Homo sapiens: one gene and its partners. The protein of the gene in region 3 binds, or shares a complex with, the protein of the main gene of each other region. Each region holds a gene or a part of one and is shown on either strand. Other genes may lie near its edges. The genes, in order: ZNF541, DNTTIP1 and SAP30.

What was found.
Region 1: SAP30 (region 3) and ZNF541 share a complex: the UniProt entries of both Homo sapiens proteins name them as parts of the histone deacetylase complex.
Region 2: SAP30 (region 3) and DNTTIP1 share a complex: the UniProt entries of both Homo sapiens proteins name them as parts of the histone deacetylase complex.

What each region holds. Positions count from the first base shown.
Region 1 is NC_000019.10:47,535,125-47,542,244, forward strand, and holds part of ZNF541 (zinc finger protein 541), read right to left. Parts: intron 5,828-7,120; coding exon 5,769-5,827; intron 5,212-5,768; coding exon 5,052-5,211; intron 4,755-5,051; coding exon 4,581-4,754; intron 3,316-4,580; coding exon 3,018-3,315; intron 1-3,017. UniProt on the Homo sapiens protein: Transcription regulator which is essential for male fertility and for the completion of meiotic prophase in spermatocytes.
Region 2 is NC_000020.11:45,787,752-45,794,978, forward strand, and holds the start of DNTTIP1 (deoxynucleotidyltransferase terminal-interacting protein 1), read left to right. Parts: upstream 1-4,202; 5' UTR 4,203-4,253; coding exon 4,254-4,358; intron 4,359-4,436; exon of another isoform or gene 4,437-4,525; intron 4,526-4,925; coding exon 4,926-4,996; intron 4,997-6,169; coding exon 6,170-6,266; intron 6,267-7,227. Other genes in the region: WFDC3 (WAP four-disulfide core domain protein 3), read right to left, coding at 85-231, 1,180-1,308, 2,143-2,231, 3,956-3,966. UniProt on the Homo sapiens protein: Increases DNTT terminal deoxynucleotidyltransferase activity (in vitro). Also acts as a transcriptional regulator, binding to the consensus sequence 5'-GNTGCATG-3' following an AT-tract.
Region 3 is NC_000004.12:173,373,834-173,378,032, reverse strand, and holds the end of SAP30 (histone deacetylase complex subunit SAP30), read right to left. Parts: intron 4,095-4,199; coding exon 3,996-4,094; intron 829-3,995; coding exon 706-828; 3' UTR 501-705; downstream 1-500. UniProt on the Homo sapiens protein: Involved in the functional recruitment of the Sin3-histone deacetylase complex (HDAC) to a specific subset of N-CoR corepressor complexes. Capable of transcription repression by N-CoR.

The DNA of each region.
Region 1 (7,120 bases), on a different chromosome or scaffold from region 3:
TTGTATTTTTAGTAGAGACGGGATTTCACCATGTTGGCCAGGCTGGTCTTGAGCTCCTGACCTCGTGATCCGCCTGCCTCGGCTTCCCAAAGTGCTGGCATTACAGGCGTGAGCCACCGCACCTGGACCAAAATTACAAAACTCTTACAGGGAAACAAGAGTGACTCTGCATGACTTGGGTCAGGCAAATCTTCACATATAACACCACAAGAACAAGTAACAAAAGAAAGGAAATTGGGCTTCATGAAAATTAGAAATGTTTGTCCTGCAAAAGGACCACTTTACACCTACTAGGATGGTTATACTTAAAAAGATAGACAATAACAAGTGTTGACAAGAAGGAGGAGAAATGAAAATGTTCATATACTGCTACTGGAAATTTAAAGTGGCCCAGCCATTTTGGAAAACAATCCGGCAGTTTGTAAACAGTTAAATATGGAGTTACCATATGACCCAGCACTACACTCCTAGTTATCTACCCAAGAGAGCTGAGAACATAAATCCACACAAAAACCTGTACATAAGGCTGGGTGTGGTGGCTCAGGCCTCTAATCCCAGCACTTTGGAAGGCCAATGCAGGAGGACTGTTTCACCCCAGAGTTGTTTTTTTTTTTTTGAGACCAAATTTAGCTCTTTCGCCCAGGCTAAAGTGAAATGGCATGGTCTCGGCTTACTGCAACCTCCGCTGCCGAGACCAGCTCGGTCGGGGAGACCCTAACCCAGCGGCGCTAGAGGAATTAAAGACACACACAGAAATATAGAGGAGTGGAGTGGGAAATCAGGGGTCTCACAGCTTTCAGAGCTAAGAGCCCTGAACAGAGATTTACCCACATATTTATTGACAGCAAGCCAGTGATAAGCATTGTTTCTATAGATTATAGATCAATTAAAAGTATTCCTTACAGGAAACAAAGGGATGGGCCAAAATATAGGGATATGTCTGGCTAGTTATCTGCAGCAGGTGCATGTCCTTAAGGCACAGATCGCTCATGCTATTGTTTGTGGTTTAAGAACGCCTTTAAGCAGTTTTCTGCCCTGGGTCGGCCAGGTGTTCCTTGCCCTCATTCCGGTAAATCCACAACCTTCCAGCGTGGGTGTCATGGCCATTATGAACATGTCACAGTGCTGCAGAGATTTTGTTTATGGCCAGTTTTGGGGCCAGTTTATGGCCAGATTTTGGGGGGCCTGTTCCCAACACTGCACCCTCAGTTCAAGCGATTCTCCTGCCTCAGCCTCCTGAGTGGCCAGGATTATAGGCACCCGCCACCATGCTCGTCTAATTTTTATATTTTTAGTAGAGACGAGGTTTTGCCATGTTGGCCAGCCTGGTCTTGAACTCCTGACCTTAGGTGATCCACCCGCCCCAGCCTCCCAAAGTGCTAGGATTACAGGCATGAGCCACCATGCCTGGCCCACCTCAGAGTTTGAGACCAGTCTGGGCAACATGGCAAGACCCCCCTCCCTACATAAAAACAATTACAAAAAATTAGCCAGGCATGGGGGTGCATGCCTGTAGGCCCAGCTACTCTGGGCCGAAGCAGAAGGATCAGTTGAGCCCAGGAGGTTGAAGCTGCAGTGAGCTGTGATCATACAACTGCACTCCAGCCTGGGTGACAAGAGTGAGACCTTGTCTCCCAAAAAAACCCCAAAAATTTCTATATGAATGTTTATGGCAGCATTATTCATAATAGCCCAAAGTGGAAACAACCCAAATGTCCATCAACTGATAAATAAACAAAATGGGGCCCATCTGTACAAGGGAAAAATGTTCGGCCATAAAAAGGAATTGAGCACTGATATGCACTACAATATGAAGGGACTCTGAAAACATGCCAAGTGAAATAAACTAGACACAAAAGGCTGCATATTGTATGATTCTACTTACATGAAATGTCCTGAATAGGCAAATCCAAAGAGAGAAGGCAGATGAGTGGGTGCCCAGGCTGGGGGAAGAAGGGACTGTGGGGATATGGGCGGAGTCACTGCTAATGAGCTCTGGCTTCTTCTGGGGATGCTAAGCGTGCTCTAAAATTAAGACTATGTGATAGTTGCACGGCCTTGTGAATATCCTAAAAATCACTGCATACTCTAAATGGGTGATTTGCATGGTATGTGAAGTACAGCTCAATAAATCTGTTAGGAAAATTACATAGGCCAGGCCAGGCACAGTGGCTCACACCTGTAATCCCAGCACTTTGGGAGGCTGAGGAGGGTGGATCACTGGAAGTCAGGAGCTCGAGACCAGCCTGGCCAACATGGTGAAATCCCATCTCTACTAAAAATACAAAAATTAGCCAGGCATGATGGCGCACGCCTGTAGTCCCAGCTACTTGGGAGGCTGAGGCAGGAGAACTGCTTGAACTTGGGAGTTGGAGGTTTCAGTCAGCCAAGATCACGCCACTGCACTCTGGCCTGGGTGATAGAGTGATACTCTGTCTCAAAAAAAAAAAAAAAAAAAAGGAAATGACACAGACTGGACAGGGTGGCTCACACATTTAATGCCAGTACTTTGGGAGGTCAAGGCAGCAAAATCACAAGTCCAGGAGCTCGAGACCAGCCTGGACAACATAGCAAGACCCCATCTCTAAGAAAAATAAAAAATTAGCCAGGTGTGGTGATGCGCACCTGTAGTCCCAACTATTTGGGAGTCTGAGGCTGGAGGATCTCTTGAGACCAGGAGATCGAGGCTGCAGTGAGCTGTGATCAAGCCACTGCACTCCAGCCTGGGTGACAGAGCAAGACCCTGCCTCAAAAAAGAAAAAGAAAATGACACAGAAGGGCAGGCAGAAGCATGGTCAGGCTAAATGGCCTCTACGTTTTCTTTCGGGCTGTAAAATTCTATGCACTAGAAGGCACTTAGATCAGTCCTGGGGCACATCTGAATAGCAAAGGAACCCTCAGACTAGGTACACCCAGGCAGGAGACAATCACTGAACCCAATGCTACAAGGTAGAGTGGCTGTGGTCCGCAGGCAATCCACCCTGGGATCACAGAGTGAGTGCCCCAGCCTCACTCACCGAGCATGGAGCTGATGAGCTGGTCAGGGCTGGCCTGAGTGGACGTGGAACAGAGGGTGTTGAAGTACACCCCAGAGCCCTCCCGGATGGGGCTGAGCATTGGGGGTGGTGTGTAGGGGGAGCACTGGAATAAGCCCTTCAGGAGGCAGTCCACCAGGAACATGGGTGACCGCAGGCGGCTCTGGTGGCATCCTGCAGGGCCAGGCTCCCCAGCCGTGGAGGGTGGGGGCCGCTTCTTCCGCTTTCTCTGCTGGCTGCTCTCCTTGCTGTCTCGCTCCTCCCCGTCTTTCTCTTGTCCCTGAAGAAGTTTAGAACCACAGGTGGTCGCCTGAAGCCACCTACTGCACCACTCCATCTCCAGGATGGAAAGAGAGCAGGAAAAGGAGACCGGCCAGAGACAGGAAACTAGGAAATGCACGCCCGGCAAAGGAGGCTGGCCACACCTGAGCCAGACCTGACGTACTGAGCCTGGCGATGATCCGGCTGCAGCCTTCTCCTGCACCCACTGCCCCAGCAGAGCCCCTGACTCTGTGTAAGAATAGCCTCAATCATTAAGATGACTGGCCCTTAAAAAGAGAGAGATCCCCAGAGATACAGTGTGACGGTGAAGAAAGAAATGCTGCTCCACCCAAATGACAAGCACCGAAATGACCCAGCCACTGACTCAGGGGACCTTCAGGTCCACGGACTGTGTCCCCGAGTCCAGCAGGAGCTTCTTCAGTAGGGGGTCCTCCAGTACAGGCTGCAGAGACAAGCCCTACGAGACTGATCACTCGTAACTCACCATGCTCTCTCTCACTTCCACAAAATCTCCTCTCCGCTCTGCCAGCCCTACTCCTCCTCATCCTCTAGGTCTCAGATCCCATACCTCCTCCTCCAGGAAGCCCTCCCTTACCTCCTCAGGCTGGGTCAGGAGCCCCCTGGGAACTCTCTGGGCTCCCTCTGCTCCCAGCTCTGCCCACTCTGGGTTGTCACTGTCTGGGGACAGGCCTGTCTCCTCCACTGGACTAGGAGCCCTGGGAGGCAGGGCCCAGGCTATTGTGGTCACCTCTGTGTCCCCAGCACCACCCAGCACAGGGCCTGGCACAGAGGGGCTCAGTGAATGCTGAATGACTGAATTAACATGCAAACCAGGTTCTTCTGGATCAAGATTTTCTTTTTTTTTTTTTTTTTTTTGAGACAGAGTCTCACTCTGTTACCCAGGCTAGAGTGCAGTGTTGTGATCTCAGCTCACTGCAACCTCTCCTTCCTGGGTTCAAGTGATTCTCGGGCCTCAGCCTCCCGAGTAGCTGGGTTTACAGGTGCCTGCCACCATGCCCAGCTAATTTTTTTGTATTTTTAGTAGACACAGGGTTTCACCATGTTGCCCAGGCTGGTCTCGAATACCTGAGCTCAGGCAATCCACCCGCCTCAGCCTCCCAAAGTGCTGGGATTACAGGCATGAGCCACCACATCCAGCCTGGAGTCAAAGATTTTCTGTGGTATCTGGTTTGGGTTTTTCCTACGGCTTCCCCCAGCAGCTGCGGGCAGTGGCAGGAAGGAGGCAGGCCGACAAGCACCCACCATGGCCATGCTCCCTATGTGTCGGGTCACTGGAACCACGGGGATCGATTGGGGGACCACCAAAGGGGCTGCAGCTGTGGGGTCCAAGGGCTTCTTGGTTCCTGGGGGACTATGCCTGTCCCCTTCTGGCCTCAGCACCTGTCTTAGCGGCTTGCAAAACTCTGTGCCAAACACCTAAACACAGAAGAGAAGAGATGGCTCTTTAAGAGATAAGGTAGGTGGGGAAAGGAAGAGCTGCTTCAGCAAAAAAAGCTGTCATAGAAAACAGCAGTGAGTCTGTGGCATGGACCAAGCTGGAGAGCTGCTGCAGCCCATGGCAATGGCCTGCCCCTGGAGAGCCACACAGCCTGACTCCAGCCCCCGACCCAGAGTGACGTCCCCATCCTGAGATAAGTGACACCAATCTCGTTTACTCCCCACAGGCCTGCCAGAAACCCAGTAACCACCAAGCCACTGGTCGTCCCCCTTCACCTGCGGTTCCTGCTTCCCTCGAGGTGACGGCCACTGGTCGCTGTGAAAACACATGTGGCTGCTCAGCCCTTTCTCCGTATAAAACATCTGGCTGCAGTTCTTGCAGACAAAAGTGCTCCTGGGCTTCGTCCAGTCTGTGGGACTGCCGTTTTGCTGGTTACTGTGGGACATGGCAGGAAAGAAGAGTGGGAGATTAGGACTCTGTCCTTGATCACTGATTTTTTGTTGTTTTTTTTTCTTTTTTGTCTATAACTCCAATCCACTGACTTTTTTTTTTTTTTGGAGATGGAGTCTCACTCTGTTGCCCAGACTGGAGTGCGGTGGCACCATCTCGGCTCACTGTAACCTCCACCTCCTGGGTTCAAGTGATTTTCGTGCCTCAGCCTCCCAAGTAGCTAAGATTACAGGTGTGTGCCAATATACGTGGCTAATTTTTATATTTCTAGTAGAGACAGAGTTTCACCATGTTGGCCAGGCTGGTCTCGAATTCCTGACCTCAAATGATCCCCCTGCCTCAGCCTCCTGAAGTGCTGGGATTACAGGCGTGAGCCACCGCGTCCAGCCTGACTACTCTTGATAAACCCTATAAAATGGAGGCTGTACCCTAATCCCATTAGGACTGAAAGCATCCTCCCCACTCACTTGTCCAGGGCCGGCACAGGAAGGCCAGAGGACTCCTGCCAGGGTGCATGCAGGATCGGGGGCTTCTTAACTTACCCTCTGCCTGCCACATTCTCTTCCTTCACCGGATGGGGGAGCCTGTAGATGTTTCCACCCTGAAGATGAAAATGCATCTGAACCAACACATCCAAAATGAAGAGGCAAGAAGAGCTCAAATTACAGACTTTTAGAAGAAAACATCAGAGTAAATCTTCATGACCTTGGATTAGACAGTGGTTTCTTAGATAAGACACCAAAGCAAAACAGACAAATTAGACTTCATCAAAATGTAAAACTTTTAGCCAGGCGTGGTGGCTCATGCCTGTGATCCCAGGACTTTGGGAGGCCGAGGTGGGAGGATTGCTTCAGCCCAGGAGTTTGAGACCAGCCTGGGCAACATGGCAAAACCCCATCTCTACAAAAAATACAAAAATTGGCCTGGCATACTGGCATGGGCCTGAGGTCCCAGCGACTCAGGAGGCTGAGGTGGGAGAATCACTTGAGCCAGGAGTTCAAGGTTGCAGTGAGCCATGATCGTACAACTTCACTCCAGCCTGAGTGACAGTGAGACCCTGTCTCAAAAAAAAATAAAAAATAAAAAATAAAAACTTTTGTCCTGCAAATGGTATCATAAATAAAGTGAAAAGACAGACCACAAAATGAAAGAATATTTGCAAGTCATGTGTCAGATAAGGGTCTTGCATCCAGAATATATAGAGAACTCAAAAAATAGTAATCTGATTTTAAAAAATAAGCAAAGGACCTGAACAGACATTTCTTCTAGAAAGATACACAGATGGCCAATAAGAACACAGAAAGGTGTTCAACGTCAGCAGCCACGGGGAAATACAAATCAAAACCACAATGAGATACTGCTTCACACCCGCCAGGGTAGTTATAATTTAAACAAACCACGGACAATAACAAGTGTTAGTGAGGACATGGAGAATGTGGAGCCCTCATACACTGTGGGTGGGAAGAGGAAACAAGCAAAACAGCCTAGTAGTTCCTCAGACCTAAAACAGAACTGCTGTACGACCTGGCGATTCTACTCCTAGAACATAAATCCCCATAAAAATTTGTACATGGGTGAATATTCACAGCAGCACCATATTCAAAATAGCCAAAAAGTGGAAACAACCCAAATGTCCATCCACTGATGAACAGACAAATAAAACGCGGCCTTATCCATCCAACAGAGGATCACTCAGTCATGGAAAGGAATGCAGCTCTGCCGTTTGCCACCCCACGGATGAGCCTGGAAAACGTCATGCTGAGTGAAGGAAGCCAGATACGAATGCCACAGAGTGCATGATTCCACTCATATGCAATGTCCAGAACAGACACATCCACAGAGACAGAAAGGAGACTCGTGGCTGCCAGGCCCTGGGGGGAGGGCGAGATTGTGG
Region 2 (7,227 bases), on a different chromosome or scaffold from region 3:
AAACCAACAAGCTGATATGTGCATATTTGAGAAATAAACAAGCAGACCAAACAGACCATGAGGTGTGGGGACAGCGTTTCTTACCCAGCTTCTGTTTAGAGATTGGGACTACACAGCTCTTGTTGCAGCCAAGCGTGCAGCATTTCTTTACACCTGGACATGTCTCATCAGTGATGCACCTTTTCAAACAGGATTGTTTCCGAATAACCCTAGGGCAATCTCTTTTCCTCCCTGTAGCAAAAAGGGAGACAGCAAAGAAAAGAGAAAATAGGCCGAGCGCCATGGCTCACACCTGTAATCCCAGCACTTTGGGAGGCCAAGGCGGGTGGATCACCTGAGGTAGGGAGTTCGAGAACAGCCTGGCCAACATGGAGAAACCCCATCTCTACTAAAAATACAAAATTAGTCGGGGGTGGTGGCACATGCCTGTAAATCCCAGCTACTTGGGAGGCTGAGGCAGGAGAATCACTTGAACCCGGGAGGCAGAGGTTGCGGTGAGCCGAGATCACGCCACTGCATTCTAGTCTGAGCAACAAGAGCGAAACTCCGTCTCAAAAAAAAAAGAGAGAGAGAGAGAGAAAATAGTGCCTGGCAACACCCACGGGCACAGCAGAAGGGAAAAACAGAAAAAGGAAGTCCTGAGATTTATTTAAGCCTCTCAACCCTGGTGCTAAGACAAAGAGACAATAATAACAACAATAGTAATAGCAAATATTTACTGTAACATTTACTGACGTTTACCTTGTGCCATGAACATCTTATTTGATCCTCACAATTATCCCCATTTTATAGATGAGGAAACTGAGGCTAAAAGCTTAAGATTTATAAAGAGCTAAGGCTTAAGGCTTAAAAAGGTCTGCTTGGCTCTAGGGTCTACTCTCTTAATCATTATCTTACACAGCCTTCCCTTTACAACTCTTCCCTCCAGCCTTCACAGGAACTTTGAGTCCAAAGTAAAAGACATAGATAATCAATGGTGCGCTCTTTCCTGATGGAAGGCAAACAACTGGGGGCACTGAATAATTAAAGGAGGAGGGACCCTAAAAGAGTAAAGAAGAAGTACTCTAGGCAAGGGAGACTTCCAGAGGCAACCTAGAAGGTGGGAAGCTCTCTACTTCCATCTATCCCAGAGGCAATGTCAGAGAGTATGCCCAGATTTTGCCCCTCATGCCAACATACCCTTAGGAATGTCTCGGCAGATCCGACCACAGCCTGTGGTGCAGCACTTCTGTTCAGCCGGACACAATTCATCACCCTGGCACAGCTCTTTGCATGGGTTCTTATGGGGAGGGCATTCTCCCTCTTTTGCTGCAAAAGATACTATTTGAGTTTGGGGTAACTAGCCAGGCCTCAGAAATGGGGAATGGACCTTCAGCCCCTCCAGGCATCTCTATCCAAAATATTTCTGCACCACTGCACTCTAGCCTGGGTGACAGAATGAGACCCTGTCTCTTAAAAAAAAAAAAAAATTCTGGCTGGGCACGATAGCTCATGCCTGTAATCCCAGCACTTTGGGAGGCCGAGGCGGGCGGATCATGAGGTCAGGAGATCGAGATCATCCTGGCTAACACAGTGAAACCCCATCTCTACTAAAAATACAAAAAATTAGCTGGGCGTGGCGGCGGGCACCTGTAGTCCCAGCTACTCGGGAGGCTGAGGCAGGAGAATGGCGTGAACCTGGGAGGTGGAGTTTGCAGTGAGCTGAGATCACGCCACTGCACTCCAGCCTGGGTGACAGAGTGAGACTCCATCTCAAAAAAAAAAAAAAAATTCTGCAACCACCTTCCCCTCCTCATACACAAATACTAACATATATCCACCACTGCTAAAGGAGCAGCCATCCTGCAGATAACGAGAGAGAAAGGGTGGGATGATCCTGTTCTCATTTAATGAGTTCTAGGGAAAAGCTAGAACCTCTAGTAAGCCCAACTGGAAGTCCTATCTCCTTGTCCAGAGAGGGTAAAGAAAGCCAGGAAGAATGACCCAGGCCATCCTGAGAATCTATTCATCCAGTCCTGTCCTATAGAGATGATCATCTCCACTTACAAGCAACCTTGCTCTGGGAGAAGGCAGGGGATGAGTTCTCCTCTCCTCTAGTCACTTTCTGTTACTGTTGGCCAGGGATCCCAAATGATAGCTCACCATGTTCTCCTGCAGTTATCCAGGATTCCAGAGACCCAAGAGCAAGAAGTGCCTTCAGAAGAAAGAGGCAGCTTAACATCATGATGATGCTGAGAGTTGGGACAAGAGCTCAGTTCAGGCTAGAGGTGTACACCTTGCCCAGAGTATCAGCTGAGGTATGAGCAGGACTAGGGATGGCCCCAAACCCAGTCCCAAAACCTTCCCTTTCACAATACTCCCCAAGAATATCTTCTCCTGACAAGAAGAAGAGGGATTGGCTGCTGGAGTGTGGGAAAATTCCTGGCACTACCAAAGGGGACCTGTGATGGGAGGATCAAATTCTGTAAGCAATATACACAATATTCCTGGATGATGAGAAACCTAGTGGGTGGCTGGAAAAATGGAGGGGTGGCCATTGGAAAAAGAATCAAAGAGAGCCCTAAAGGGCATTGGAAGGACATGGCTTTAGCCCAAATAACAGAGGGAGGGATTCACGACACTACTTAATGGCCAAAGCTAATAACATAACCAAGCATAATAAAATTGTGGCTCCTGTTCATCCTAGCAACCAAGAAAATACAGAATGGAACAGACCACTCAGAAACTATCAAATAGGCCAAGGCGGGCAGATCACCTGAGGTCAGGAGTTTGAGACCAGCCTGGCCAACATGGCGAAACCCTGTCTCTACTAAAAATACAAAAATCAGCTGGGCATGCTGGTGCATGCCTGTAATCCCAGCTACGTGGGAGGCTGAGGCAGGAGAATAGCTTGAACCCAGGAGGCAGAGGTTGCAGTGAGTGGAGATCATGCCACTGCACTCCAGCTTGGGTAACAGAGTGAGACTCTGTCTCAAAAAAAAAAAAAAGAGAGAAAAGAAACTATCAAAAACCTACAGAAAAGCAGTAGTTGAGTTTGTTAAGAACTAATGAAAAGCACCAAACACCTACATCTTTGTCCCTCTAACCCACACAGGCCATTCTTGGACTGTATGAAGTCTAGCTGGCAGAACCCAAGAGAAGTTGCTATGTATGACTCAAATAGTCTGCCCACATATACCTCCTTTATTTCTTTTTTCTCCATTTCTTTTTTTCTTTATCTGTCCTGGTCATGCCTTTGGTTAGCTGTGATACCTAATGGTGTCCACTGGCACTGCTTAGTCCTATGGGCAGGTACAAGGTAAAACCTCCTTAATAGGATCAAAAAGTTTGGAGCCAGGAAGTCGCCCTTATGGTTAGAAGGCTGATGTTGGCTCATGGAGATAATTAACATTTGATGATGACCTCATATGTGCCTAATATGCTTTTTTTTTTTTTTTTTTTTTTTTTTTTGAGACAGAGTCTCCCTCTGTCCCCCAGGCTGGAATGCAGTGGCGCGATCTCGGCATAATTAACATTTGATGATGACCTAACATGTGCCTAATGTGCTTTTTTTTTTTTTTTTTTTGAGACAGTCTCCCTCTGTCGCCCAGGCTGGAGTGCAGTGGCGTGATCTCGGCTCACTGCAACCTCCGCCTCCTGGGTTCAAGAGACTCTCCTGCCTCAGCCTCCCGAGTAGCTGGGATTACAGGTGCCCACCACCACGCCCGGCTAATTTTTATATTTTTAGTAGAGACGGGGTTTCGCCATGTTGGCCAGGCTGGTCTCGAACTCCTGATGGCAAGTGATCCTCCCGCCTCGGCCTCCCAAAGTGCTGGGATTACAGGCGTGAGCCACCGCCCCTGGCCGAGCATATTAAAATCTAGTTTTCAAAAACTGAACTGCAGGCGCCGCTGTACCAAACGCTTCCCTCTGCTCCCCAACCCCAGCCTACAGAAAACTGGTCCCTTCCTCCTACCCCGCAGTCATCCCCAGGCCTTGGCCCAGCGGGAAACATCCCTTGACTGAACCGCCACTGAACACCCACACTGCACAATCGAGGCGCAGCCCTCCCGAGAGGAAGCCCCAACGACCTCCACCTACAAGGCCTCTAAGTGTAACTGTCCTGGGCGAGGCGCGGCGGTTCGGTTCCCATGGTAACCCCGCAGCTCCAGCGTCGCGCTTCCGGGCGGACGAGCAGCGCGCTCCAGTGACGTCACGGCGCCACTTTCCGGCCGGTGACAGAGTCCAGCGGAGTTGTGGGGGCCGGGGGCGCCATGGGAGCCACTGGCGACGCCGAGCAGCCGCGGGGACCTAGCGGGGCCGAGAGGGGCGGCTTGGAGCTGGGGGATGCGGGCGCAGCGGGGCAGCTGGTTCTTACGGTGAGGGCGCCCCCGGTGAGGTCTGGGCTCAGGCCGGGCACGGCCTCGGGGCTCCTGGGACCCTGGCCCGCGGGCGAGAGAACGCGGAGGCTGGAGCTGCAGAGGGGGTTGGCGTTTTCGCAGCCCGACGACCTGGATTTAAATTCTGGTGCCGCCCTCCTAGCTAGGTGACGTGGGCCATCTCTGTCAACCCCCTGAGTCCCAGGATCCTCTTCTATAAAATGGAAATGATTAGTACCTGTCTCATAAAACTTGTTGTGGGATGGGAAGATAAAGGCGGGTACAACGCCCCGGACATCACCTGACACAGAGTTGACCCTCGGTAAATACTGCTTCCCTTCCTCCTGCCGTGCCAGAAGGCAGGGTCGGGACTTTTAAGGCAGGAAACTTCCTCAGTTCCTCTTTTGTGGAGGAGGCCTTACAACTATCGTCCCACCCCAAGGCGGGAGAGATGGTGACGGATCTGAGAAGCAGGGATGTCCAGGTTTAACTTCATACCCACCCTCCACCTCCACCCCACCCCAGTGTCACAGGCCGCAGTGACATTTGTTCCGTTGGTCCCCACAGAACCCTTGGAACATAATGATAAAGCACCGGCAGGTGCAGCGGAGGGGCCGCCGCTCACAGATGACAACAAGGTAAGGCTGGCCCTGCATGGGGCTTATATCCCAGCCACTGGCTTGCATGGCAGATTTGGGATCCCCAGTGCACAAGGCTATGGAGATCTACAGCCGGTAGAAAGAGCACAGGACTGAGGAAGAGGAGACTCCGATTCTGTAACTCTGTGTGATCTTGAACTAGTCAAGTCACTTCCTTCTCTGAACTCACGTACAAAATGGGGAAGGGCACAGGAGATGGGTTGTGGAATAAACAATACCTAAGATCCCTCACATTCACTGGCTCTGTGGTTGAGGGCTCTAAAGAGGTCAGTTAGCATGGAGTTTAAGAGAACAGGCTCTGGAGTCAGACAACTGTGTTCTCATCAACAGACTCTGATGAGCCCGTTTTCTCAACTATAAAGAGGGATTAATAGTATGCATGTCAGGGAAGGGAGAGAGCACAAGGTGGGCCTTTGGGATGCTGATAGTGGTGAAATGGATGTTCACTATAATTACTCATTAAAGTGTATAGACTTTTCTGTATAAGTATTATATTTCATAAAAACACTTTGGGCCGGGCGCGGTGGCTCACGCCTGTAATCCCAGCACTTTGGGAGGCTGAGGTGGGTGGATCACCTGAGGTCGGGACTTCCAGAACAGCCTGACCAACATGGAGAAACCCCGTCTCTACTAAAAATAACAAAAAATTGGCCGGGCGCGGTGGCTCACGCCTGTAATCCCAGCACTTTGGGAGTCTGAGGCGGGCAGATCACCTGAGGTTGGGAGTTCGAGACCAGCCTGACCAAAATGGAGAAACCCGGTCTCTACTAAAAATACAAAAATTAGCCGGGCGTGGTGGTGCACACCTGTAATCCCAGCTACTAAGGAGGCTGAGGCAGGAGAATTGCTTGAACCCAGGAGGCAGAGGTTGCAGTGAGCCAAAACCACGCCACTGCACTCCAGCCTGGGCAACAGAGTGAGACTCCGTCTCAAAAAAAAAAACTTTGAAAATAATATGCACTTCATAGAGTTATTATGAGAAAGAAATAAAGTCATGCCTCTGTGATTTGCACAAAATCTGAGCATGTAGCTAGTTTTCAATAAAAGCTGTCTAGTATTGTTAAGGAATTCTATGTCCATAATTAACTGGGGAGGCTGGGAAAGAATATGTTTGGGACATGCCCCCTCACCCTGTCTCCCTCCTGAATGCAGTTTCACAGATCCTGCCATCTCCATGGATCTCCTCCGAGCTGTCCTGCAGCCCAGCATCAACGAGGAGATCCAGACTGTCTTCAACAAGTACATGAAGGTGAGAGGGACACAGGATAAAAAATAACAGGAGAAAGACTCATGAGGAGCCCAGTCCTTGCCTGCATCACCAGTCTGTCTCTTTCCTACATACAGATATCTAAAGTTTTCCTTTCTTGTTGTTTTTGTTTTGTTTTGTTTTGTGTTTTTGAGACAGATTCTCACTCTGTCACCCAGGCTGGAGTGCAGTGGCACAATATCGATTCACCGCAACCTCCACTTCCCAGGTTCCAGCGATTCTCATGCCTCAGCCTCCCTAGTGGCTGGGATTACAGGTGCCCACCACCTTGCAGGGCTAATTTTTGTATTTTTAGTAGAGACGGGGTTTCACTGTTGGCCAGGCTGGTCTCGAACTCCTGACCTCAAATGATTTGCCTGCCTTGGCCTCCCAAAGTGCTGGGATTATAGGTGTGAGCCAGGGCACCTGGTCAGTTTTCAAATTTTTAATCCCCCAAGAATTTTATTCCCTCCTTGAGGGTAATTCAGATACCTTTTTTTTTTAAAATCTGCCCTTGTCACGCACGTGGTTTTTTTTGCTGACCTCTTATAAGGATGAAGTGACTTAAATGTACTGTGCTGAGCACTGTGCTCCAGACATAACAAGTGTCCAATAAGTATTCTTATTAGTTGTTTAATAATATAACCATTATTGGGGCCATGCACAGTGGCTCACACCTGCAACCCCAGCACTTTGGGAGGCCGAGGCAGGATCACTTGAGGCCAGGAGTTTGAGAACAGCCTGGGCAACACAGTGGGACCTCATCTCTACTAAAAAAAAAAAAAAATTTTTTTTTTTTTTTTTGAGACAGAGTCTCACTCTGTCGCCAGGCTGGAGTGCAGTGGCACGGTCTTGGCTCACTGCAACCTCCGCCTCCTGGGTTCAAGCAGTTCTCTGCCCCAGCCTCCCAAGTAGCTGGGATTACAGGCATCCGCCACCACGCCCAGCTAATTTTTTGTATTTT
Region 3 (4,199 bases):
CTATATTCATGCCACATAAATATCTTTTCTCGAAGACAAAATTTTGAAAAACAGCTATTTAATTTTATACTCTTATTTCAACTTTCAGCATTGTGTTTATCTTTGCTGGCACATTAAGTCTTCTTTGGAAGGAGGTGGGTATATAAATTAAACCATTTGTTCTTCCTAGTACTTCATCAAGTAATAATAACAAAAAAAAGGAAATAAAAAAGAAGTTGCATTCCAAGAGAAGTTTATTTTTCAAATTTGCTAGCCCTATAAAGCACTTTAAAAAATAATGCTATTTAGATTATCTTCACTTCCAAGTCAGATTGTCCCAGAGAATGCAAATGTGCTACATTTGTTACTTCTCCTTACCCTGTTAATTTCTTGGAAGTTTAAAAAAAAAAAAAAAAAAGGATTACAAAATGAAGGACTTTACATTAAAATCTCAATACTGATCTCTTAGTCAGTTTAAAAGAAAAATCAAGTTTCACAAAATAAATACACTGAAGCAACTATAATAGTAATAACCTTTATTTAAAATAGATTTAATTTAGGAAAGCTCATTTTATATGAGTTTCCAACTAATTATTAGAGTCAGAAACAAAGAAAATAAAATCAGAGAAAATCCTCTGTAGAAAAAATACACAAAGAACATTTCTACATGTGAAAAAACAGTAAACAGTGTTAACATCCAAGTTATTAGTCTCAATTCCACGTCTCCTAGTGAACACCACTATCAACCTTGAGATCTGATTTGTTCTTGTCATTCTTCACTGAGTAGATGAAATATGTTAAGGTGTCTTTTTCATTCACTGGAATAGACCTAAAGTGGCAACCAACTATCTACAAAGAAAAGAAAAATTAAGGAAATTAAATTTTAGATATAACAGGTTTCATAAACTACGTAAAAAATACGGTTTCATCAAAAGAAAAAGTGCTATGTGATAAGGGCTATTTCCTTTAAAAATTATATTTAACAAAATATCAACAAGACAGAAAGCATTCAAGAATAAAATGTTACGAACAAGAGATAGTGTGATTTCAAAGGACCCTTTGACCCACTCAATTTAATATACATTGATTAGAAAATATATTTTCCTTTTATTTATTTTAAATTTTATAATTGGGCCAGGCGTGGTGGCTCATGCCTGTAATCCCAGCACTTTGGGAGGCAGAGGTGGGTGGATCACTTGAGCCCAGGAGTTTGAGACCAGCCTGAGCAACATGACGAAACCCCATCTCTACCAAAAAAAATACAAAAATTAGATAGGCCTGGTGGTGTACACCTGTAATCCTAGCTACTCAGAAGGCTTAGACAGGAGGATTGCTTGAACCCAGAAGGTGGAGGTTGCAGTGAGCTGAGATCATGCCACTGGACTTCAGCCTGGGCAACAGAGCAAGACTCTGTCTCAAAAAAAGATAAATAAATAAAATAAAAATAATAAATTTTATAATTAGAATCTAGAATAGGGAATAAATGATTTTACTTTTAAACTTTAAATGAGATAAAACAGACGTAAGAGATCACATGCATCATTAAACCTGCAATGGTTTAGACTCTACTGATAGAAAAAGAAGTATGAAGTTGAAAACTTTTGCTAGTAGAGAAACCAACAATAACATATAAATTGTTTGCTGCAAATTATATTCATTCATTCACACCTTGGTAGCATTCTTTGGTTAAGGTTCCTTGAAAATTTTTCTGAATAAAAATTATGAATGGAAATGAGAGGAGAAAGAGGGATGTTCAATGAAGGATGTTTACCTGCTTCCTTGCTTTTTCATTGTGCTAACATAACATGCATACTACAATTACTAATAGAAGAATAATAGACTTACCTGGGGTGCTGACATGCATATTTAGATTCCAGAAAATAAAATTTCTTAAGAAAAAAGTTCATCCACACAATAATTAAGAGACTTAAGACTTAGTCATACAACCCTGGATTCCCTTAAAACAGTGGTCCCCAACCTTTTTGGCACCAGAGATAGATTTCACGGAAGGCAATTTTTGCACAGATTGAGGGTGGCGGAGTTGGTTTTGGTATGAAATTGTTCCACCTCAGATCATCAGGCATTAGATTCTTATAACAAGCATACAATCTAGATCCCTCACATGTGCACTTCACAAGAGGGTTTGGACTCCTCTGAGAATCTAATTCTGTGGCTGATCTGACAGGAGGCGGAGCTCAGGCAGTAATGCTTGCTAGCTGGTGCTCACCTCCTGCTCTGCGGACCCGTTCCTAACAGGCCACCAACCAGTACCAGTCCATGGCCCTGGGGTTGGGGACCCCTCTCTTAAAATATATGTACTACATCTGCACATTCCTTAACTTGCTAATATCTGCATTTCTGATTAAGTAAAATATAACACTCATGGCTATCTCTTATGTATAAAAAAGAAAATAGCTCTGGAAATAATATAACTGTTCTTAGAAGGTCAGTTTATCAAAAATTACAGGTTTAATTTATACCTAAATATAACATTTAAAATAATCAGTTCTTTGGTTCTCATTTGTCCCAAAACAGGGGTGCCTTCACTCCATTAGTACCTATTGAAATATTTCATCATGGTGGGCAATAACTATATTTATGTTACATTAATGTATTGTACAACCCCAAAAGAACTTGATCTTTTAAATCAAAATTAAAGAAAAATTAATTAGATCTGTGTTGCCCAACCAAGGATAAAAAATTTTAGCTAAATAGTTAATATATTAGATTTTAACAATGTTAAAAAGCATTCTGCCAAATAAATGTAACTTCTATTCATATTTCATTTTATTCAATAGGCACATTTTAGAAAATGTTGGGTAACTACTAAATCCATGCAAAGAATATGAGAAAACTGATTTATATTTCTACACTTCTATTTTGTCTAGTAGGCCAAATTTTCTTTTTTTAGAGATGGAGTGTTGCTATGTTGCCCATGGTGACTCAAACTCCTAGGCTTAATCAATCCTCCTCAGTAGCTGCAAGTAAAAATTTTTATTTTAAATATGATTAAAATATATATATATAAATCTATAAACATCTTAATAAGATGCACAGATTTCTTGGTTCTATTATATCCTGAAAACATATGCATGCTCCGTTAACTTTTCACAACTCAGTGACTGACTAGAAGTCCTCTATCAAAGCAAACTACAAGTAAAAGCTTGGGTAAAAGAAAAGCTTTTGCCTCTTCTAGATGTGAAAAAAACATGGATGTCTCTAATAAAACAAACATCAACAAGGACAAATTTTGAAATAGTTAAGTCAGCAAATTATAAAAATACTGTTTAGGGTCTGATTTGTAGGCCTATTCCACCACTTTAAAATATAAATTCTAATAAGGACATTAAAGCTTGTTAATTAATTTTATTATGCCTCAATTAGGTGCTCAAATGTTTACTGGTTAAACGGAGTTTTAAAATTAATAGATTTCTAAAGTGAGGATTAAAAAAACTCTCATTCAACATTTTGAGGGCCAGGCACGGTGGCTCACACTGGTAATCCCAGCACTCTGGTAGGCTGAGGTGGGCAGATCACTTGAAGTCAGGAGTTTGAAACAAGTCTGGCCAACATGGTGAAACCCTATCTCTACTAAAAATATTATACAAAAATTAGCCTGGTGTGGTGGTGCACACCTGAAGTCCCAGGTACTTGGGAGGCTGAGGCTGGAGAATTGCTTGAACCTGGTAGGTAGAGGTTTCAATGAGCCAAGATCATGCCACTGCACTCCAGCCTGGGTGACAGAGTGAGATTCTGTCTCAAAAAACAATCAACACATTTTGAAAGCCAGTATCAGAAGGTGCTGTACACAATCTACTAAGCAGTCATTACAAAAAGGAATTTCCTAAGTGGCAGACAAACATTTCTACACAACTAGATTCTTCCACAACAGATTTTTTAACTTTGTTCTTTCTAATTAAAATGTACTGTTACATACACTACATTAAAACTTCCATTAGCACTTAATAACCTCTCGGTTGTGCAGATAGTTCAAATAGTTTAAAACTCATATATACCTCAACAAGTTGTGCTTTATTAAGTCCTGGTCTGGTTGGTAGCTTGAAGTGTCTTTTGTATCTCCTAAGTGTATTTACTTGTAATTGGTATAAATCAACCTAGAAAAAATTAACATGTATAAATGAGTTCATACAATTTGTTGAAAATTTATCATTGATATGTATAATAACAAACATTTTAACTTCAGCACAATAAAATTTACT